Homo sapiens: one gene and its partner. The protein of the gene in region 2 purifies or fractionates together with the protein of the main gene of each other region. This does not show direct contact. Each region holds a gene or a part of one and is shown on either strand. Other genes may lie near its edges. The genes, in order: STK11IP and TMEM106B.

Region 1 (3,817 bases), on a different chromosome or scaffold from region 2:
CCACACTCTGAGGTGGGTCACAAAGCAGCCTGTGCCCCTGGGGCCAAGACCCTCCCTTTCCCAAGCTCCATGAATCTCTACTCTGGAATACCTCTGAGGCCTACCGCCCCCCACTGCCCCACACCCACCCTACTCAGAAACAAGGCTCCACCCTCTCCTTCTGTGACTGATGAGGCAGGGCCGACTCAGCCACGCTGCTCCACTTCATAGAAAGCCTGGGCCCGAGAGCAAAGGCTCTGGGTAACTGAGGATCCTGGGTGCCTCCTAACCCCACCCAGAGGGTCAGGGCACACTGAGGCTGTTACTCAGCTATGCCCTCAAGTGAGAGGTTCTCCAGGTTCCAGGAACTGACAGTTGCTGCAAGGGCACTGTACAGGTGCTGCGCGTGGGCCAGTGCCTGTGACAAGGTAGGGTACAGAGACCAGGGAAGCATCAGCTGCACAGAGGCTTCACCTTCAACCAGGAACGCCCGAAGGTAGAAGAACTGGCGAGCCTCCAAGGATGAGTCTTTTTCCAGCAATGGCCTAGAGGGAATATGGCAGGCACAGGAAGATCAGCTAGCGGGTGGGAAGGACTTGAAGAGAGGGGAGTGGGAAGAAAGCCCTGCAGGGGGTTGGGAGGAGACACTAGGGGCCCATAAGGGGCATGGCATGAGGACAGGTGGCTGCCCAGGACCTACTCAGCACAGGGCCATGTCTGGGGCTCTGTGGAAAGAGGATTGGGCAGCAACCCCAGCCTCTGCCTCCTATCGACTCACCAGAGCCGGTGCTGGGGGGTGACCTCCTCCTCTGTGGCACTGACACAGTTCCTCCAGGCAGGGGGCAGAGACTGCAAGACATCTAGACAGAGGCAGGCCAGGGAACTTTAGAAGGCTCTGCTCTCCTCCAGCCTAAACTCACCACCTCTCAATCCCTTCCTATTCTCCACATTTCTGGATTTCAGAAACTTCTACAAGGGACAAGTCCTGTTACCTCTCTGTCTCCGCTACTGGGTACCAGGTGGGGAGCCTGGCCCCAAGGCCCTGCCCACCCTCCTGCCCACCCTCCTGCCTTCCCCTCCCCTCTCTCACCAAGGAGCTCCTCTAGGAAGGCCCGGCAATGCCTGGCATCTCGGGGCAGCAGCACACAGCGGCCCGCCCCAGCTGCCCACTCTAGCCGCAGGCTCTGGCCTGCCAGGCCCAGCTCTATGCCACTCAGATCCTGCAGGGGAACAGCCAGGGTCAGCTGCAGCCAGCTAGCTGGAGGCTCACTGTGGAGAGAGGGGACAGAGCAATGGAGAAGCATGAGAGTGGAGTGAGAGTCCCAGAGAGGCCCTGCCCCAGCTGCACCTGCCTCACTCACTGCATCACCCCCGTGCGCTCACCACACCCCATCTTCCCCCTCATTCCATCTCCTCCCTCACTCACCCCATCTCCCCCTCACTCACCCCATCTCCCCCCTCACTCACCCCATCTCCGCCCCCCACTCACCCCATCTCCGCCCCCCACTCACCCCATCTCCCCCTTCACTCACCCCACGTCCCCCCCACTCACCCCACCTCCCCCCCACTCACCCCACCTCCCCCCTCACTCACCCCACCTCCCCCTCACTCACCCAATCTCCCCCTTCTCTCACCCCATCTCCCCCCTCACTCACCCCATCTCCCCCCTTAACACCCCATCTCCCCCCTCACTCACCCCATCTCCCCCCTCACCCCATCTTCCCCCTCACTCCCCCATCTCCCCCCAACTCACCCCATCTCCCCCCTTACTCACTGCATCTCCCCTCTCACTCACCGCATCTCCCCAGTCACCTTCAACAGGTACAGCCTGCGGTCAGACACAACCACAAGGCACATGAACTCCCCAGTGTGGCCTGCCAATGCCACTGGCACCTGGGGGAAGAGGAAGTTGGTGAGAAACCTGATGAGAGGCCTGGGGAGGTGGGGCCAGACTGAAAGCCGAGTTCCTGGTGACAGCACCCTCGGCCTGACCCTCCCACTGCCCACCCACCAGTCTATGGAGCTTCCCTCACACTCGACAGCCTCTTCATCCACCACCGCTCTCTGCCTTGCAGCCCCTGCCCGCTCAGAGCCTCAGCAGCTGGCTTCCCTGCCTGTCGCCTCACCCCCTCCACGCTCCGCCAGACTAACTATTCTAAGGCACAAAACTGACCATCACTGCCCCATTTCAAATCCTTCAGTGGCTCCCAGTGGCCCTCAGAAACAAGTCCAAACTCCTTGGCAGACACAGGAGGCAGCTCCTGACCTGGCCCCTGCCGGCCCCCCAGAGTCCTCTCAGGACCCCTGCCCCTCGCCCTGCATGTCCAGGTGCCCTCATCCTGGGCAGTTCTCCCCACCAGCGACACTCTCGGGCCTCCATGCATTTGCGGCTTCCTTTACCTAAGACATTCTTTTCCTCCCTACTCCTTAACTTACCCTTCAAGACTGAGCTTAGACATCACCTCCCAGGAAGGTTCCTTGACCCACTCAAGCTGGACTAGACACCCCTTCAAGGGCCTTAGCCCGATTACAGCATTTGCATATTGCATAATCATTGTCAGCTTCTCACACCAGACTGTAAGATCAAGGGCAAGATTGATCTGTAGATCCTCAATGTCTAGCACAACAGGTGCTCAACAAAGGCCTAACGACATCATGTGTTTATAATAATGCTAGGAGGCCCCATTGATGAGTGCCAGGTGCTGGGCTGGGCAGCTTCAACATGAGCCCTGACGCACGCCACTGTGTAAGGGAGGCATCGTTATCTCCATTGCAGACAGGCAACAACTGGGACTCAAATACCAGGGAATGTGTCCACGGCCACACAGCAAGAAGCTGCTGGGGTTGAAACCAGAAGCCAGATCAGGTCTCTAGAGTGCTTGATCTGACTCAGTTGGCTGTGATGGAAACGAGTGGGCACCCTGGACAGCTGGGGGCATGGGCAGTGTCAGGGAGCACAGACCTTGAGGCAGCACTGGAACTCCTCCTGGGCATCGCTGAACACCTCAACATCCAGGAAGAGCCGGAGTCGGTGGTCCACAGAGCGGAGGCCACAGCGCTCAGGGGCTGAGGGCAATGAGGGGGCATCAGCCTGCCCATGGCAGCCCCTGGGCTCCATCTCCACCTCCCCATCAGTGCCCCTTCCCTTCCCCAAACTCATCTATGTCTTGTTTTGCCTATACTCACGGGGACTGAGGCTCCAACTACCATGGTCACGGGTGCTCGGTGCCTGAGGTGGGCTGTTCTTGGCCCTGTCAAGGTGGTCACCATGGCCAGGAGGGTGGCAGACAGGGCTGGCAGACGGAGAAGGAGCCAGAGACTGCTCTCCCTGTTTCCGCTCCCTGTTGGGGGTTCCCCGAGACACAGCGAGGAGAACCACGTGGTCACTACCACAGTTAGGACACACAGCAGGAGATTCTGGAGGGAGGATGGACACGGTCCCCATGAGCCCCCCCCACAGTGCCACAACTCCCACCATGCTCACGATGCTCCTTCCCCATGCTCAGGTCTCCCCTGAGCCCAAGCCTCCAGCTTCATACACAACCACCGCGCCCCAGGCCACCAGCTCCCTCTCCCGGCACAGCTGCCAACTGATCACTCCCCACCCCAGGGAGGGATGAGCTAACCCTGGCCCACAAACTCCTCAAAGTGCACTCTACCTTCTAACTCTAGGCCCTCTCAGACTGGGCCAAACACAACCAGGACCTGCTCTTATGCCCTCTTACAGACTTGGGCTGATCAAGTACTTCAGGGCTCTCCTAGCAACGTCTGAAAGACCAAAATCAACAGGTCTGGAAAGGCAGAGAACTCTGTTGCCAAATTTCGGTCCAATTCCAGG
Region 2 (3,817 bases):
GGAACAGTCTGGATAATATGACATCTGTTTACAACACGGTTCACTGAATATTTTAAGCCCATTGTTGAGACCTGCTTGGAAAAAAAAATTCCTTTCAAAGTATTACTACTCATTGACAATGTACCTGGTCACCCAACAGCTCTGATGATGTACAAATAGATTAATGTTGTTTTCATGCCTCTTAACACAACGTGCATTCTGCAGCCATGGATCAGGGAGTAAATTTGACTTTTGAATCTTACTATATAAGAAATACATTTTGTAAGACCATAGCTGTCATAGGTAGTGATTCCTCTGATGGATCTGGGCAAAGTAAATTGAAACCTTCCAGAAAGGATTTGCCATTCTAGATGCCATTAACAACATTTGTGATTCAGGGGAAGAGGTCTAAATATGAACATTAACAGGAGTTTGAAAGAAATTGATTTCAACTCTCATGGATAATTTTGAGGGGTTCATGACTTCAGTGAAGGAAGTCACAGCAGATGTGGAAATAGCAAGAGAACTAAAATTTAGCAATGGAGTCTGTAGATGTGACTGAATTGCTACAACTTGATGCCAAAACTTGAACAGATGAGGAATTGTTTCTTATGAATGAGCTAAGAAAGTGGTTTCTTGAGTTGGAATCTACTCCTGGTGAAGATGCTGAGACCACTGCTGAAATGACAATAAAGAATTTAGAAAATTATTTAAACATGGTCGATAAAGCAGAGGCAGGGTTTGAGAGGACTGGCTCCAATTTTGAAAAAAGACCTACCATTGGTAAAATGCTATCAAAACAGCATCACATGCTAGAGACATCTTTCATGAAAGGACAAGGCAATAGATGTGATAAACTTCATTGTTGTCTTAAGAAATTGCCATAGCCACCCCAACTTTAGTAACCACTACATGGATCTATCAGCAAACAACATCCAGACAAGATCCTGTGCCGGCAAAAGGAGTATAAACTTCTGAACATTCAGATGATCGTTAACATTTTTTAGCAATAGTGTGTGTGTGTGTGTGTGTGTGTGTGTGTGTGTGTGTGTATGTATATATTTTATATGGGGTCTCGCCATGTTGACCAATTTGGTCTTGAACTTCTGGGCTCAGGTGATCCTCCCACCTTGGCCTCCGAAAGTGCTGGGATTACAGGTGTGAGCCACTGCACACAGCCTATTTTTTATTAAGGCATATATATTGTGTTTTTCGACATAATGCTATTGCACACTTAATAGACTACAGTATGATGTAAACATAACTTTCATATGCACTGGGAAACCAAAAAAAGGTGTGTAACTTGCTTGATTATATCACTTTATCGATATGGTGTGGAACCAAACCTGCAATATATCCAAGGTATGTCTATAATATCAAGGGAAATTTCACGTATGAGATAAATTCCAGAGACATTACAGAGGTAGAATGGATAAAGCTTGAGTACTGATTGGAAGTTAAGTGAATGAAAAAAAGAAATCAAAGATAATGCTAAAGTAGAGTTCAGGTAAGGACTATAAGGATGAAAAGGATTAAAGGTAAAAGATTTTGAATATCTACACTGATTTGTTTATGTTAAGGAAATTTCAAAAGCATAGCCAAAATACATAAGTGATACAAATTTTATTTTTCATGCTGAAATTTTTTTACAAATTTTATTGCGTCATACACAACTACAAGAGTAACAGTTATAACTGAATTAAAAAAATAGCATTTTGGGGGCATTTCTATTTGTTTGCTATTATAAGCATGTTTTGTTACATGAACAGCAATAATAATTACAATTACAGAACTGCTCAATTCATAAATGTAGTAAGTGTGTCATGATGGAGGCTACTACATAATATAAACAGTAAATGCCCAAACATATTTTCATATTCTATATTATTTATTATATAACTAGAATCAAGGATTAGAATCTAGGTAATACCATCATTCAAATATCTGACCAAGTCAATCAAGTGAGCAAGCACGTCAAATCATTTTCCAAAATCTGTTATAGTTTAGTTCTAAAGAAAAATATAAGATGAAACACATAAGGCATGGCTTGTTAATAATTTATGCCTAAAACCATTATATAATAAAAATCTGCATATTTTGCAACTTGGCATTTGTTTCATCTGACACAATAATAAAAAAGATGAATAGTACTATCAGCACTTGGAATTACCCAACTACAGCTGATATAGTACCTCCCAGACTTCTAGTTTCTAAAATTCTGGGTGAAGTGGGACAATTTGAACTATAACAGTCTACATGGTAGTAATATTACCTTTTGGCCACTGGCTCAATACTAATCCTTTTTTGTTTTTTAATATATAAAATATGCTGAAATTGTATCTCTTAAAACACATTTCAATTAATGTAATTAAAAACAGAAGGGTAACAGCTTCCTTTTAGAAGACTTAAGACTTAGTTATGAAAAATCTGCCATATTTGTTAAATTAATCCAACATTTTTAGGGTCAAATATAGATCATACTACATTTTTCAATTTAGAGTCTGTGATAAATACTTGTACAAATAACTATAAACACAACCAAATTACTTTTAAAAATGGAAATTACCATTTTTATCTCTTTAGTAACTTTAATCACTTGATTTTATCCAATTTAAGGACAAACTTCAAAAATCCACTGTGAAATTTGTATTCCGACTAAGCACAAAAATACACAAATGTTAGTTCTAGTCAGAAATTTAAGCTGACAAGTGAAAATCTCACTTTGAAAGTAGATCTGGGACACAGAAGTTAAATTTTTGATCTGAACACATCATAAATATATTGTTGTAATGTAAAAATAATTTTTTAAAAGAAATGTTTAACAGTCTTTTTACTCCACCATCTCAAACATGTAAAATTTTTCCCTAAAATAGTCTAAGATAAACATCTCATCTGAAACCCGATTTTATAAAAAAGAGAGAATAAAACTAATTACTCTTATATGTACTTGAGCCAAGTAGTTGCTGCTTCCAGATGTGAGCTAAAAATCGTGACCTAATGACATTATGGTAAGCAACCTTTTGCTTATAACCCTAGTAACTTGTAATTCAATTCCTATTGCTTATCAAAGACCCATATGTATTTGTAAATTTAAAAATTTACATCTTTTAAAAAGTACCTAACAAACTATTTTCTTAAATAAAATATAATTATTATATAAAGAACTGTTTATTCTAAGAACTTTAAAAGACAAACAAAATGGGGTGCGGGAGAGTTGGGCACATGCCCTCCAAGAAAATATCTAGAATTATATCACAATAATAAGGCTAAGAACCATGAAGGATTTATTAGGCTGAAGTTTCAAGTCTCCTAATATGTTACTTTAATTGTGTTTTTGATGGTCTCCTACCTATTTGAACATTGCGGTGTCCTTTCCAAACTGTAAATCAGACAATCTGAAGTGTGTTATATTTTATTGTCATTTTCTTAGAGAAAATAATTGCTTCACTGGCCTAACAAGGCACAGAAAAACTGTACACAAATAAAATATAGCCATTTAAATGTTCCATACTTAAGATGGTTATTCAGTAATTTCAAACAATTTATGTGGTATCTAATATTTTCATACTATTCTTATTTCAAATCTCAAATAAATTAATCTCTATTATTTATAAATAATTTCCTTAGACAATGGATCAGTCTTATCTTTATTGGAATGATGAAGGGGTACTAAATTTTAACAGAAAATTAAGCTAAAGATTATGTTCCAAAGCATTTTATAAGTGTTCATTCTCCATTTAAAATATTTTAGAAAACAATGCTACCAAAATCTTAGTCCAGCAGTATTAGTTTGTCACTACTAACTATTTGAACTTTCCTCTCATTTTTAATCATACCA

Evidence for each region.
Region 1: the proteins of TMEM106B (region 2) and STK11IP purify together in Homo sapiens (affinity purification with mass spectrometry; one large-scale study listed by BioGRID and IntAct). This does not show direct contact.

The regions. Positions count from the first base shown.
Region 1 is NC_000002.12:219,611,183-219,614,999, reverse strand, and holds part of STK11IP (serine/threonine-protein kinase 11-interacting protein), read right to left. Parts: intron 3,748-3,817; exon of another isoform or gene 3,639-3,747; intron 3,397-3,638; coding exon 3,166-3,396; intron 3,046-3,165; coding exon 2,942-3,045; intron 1,873-2,941; coding exon 1,775-1,872; intron 1,249-1,774; coding exon 1,070-1,248; intron 840-1,069; coding exon 758-839; intron 525-757; coding exon 454-524; coding exon of another isoform or gene 311-453; exon of another isoform or gene 129-310; intron 1-128. UniProt on the Homo sapiens protein: May regulate STK11/LKB1 function by controlling its subcellular localization.
Region 2 is NC_000007.14:12,235,031-12,238,847, reverse strand, and holds part of TMEM106B (transmembrane protein 106B), read right to left. Parts: 3' UTR 1-3,817. UniProt on the Homo sapiens protein: In neurons, involved in the transport of late endosomes/lysosomes. May be involved in dendrite morphogenesis and maintenance by regulating lysosomal trafficking.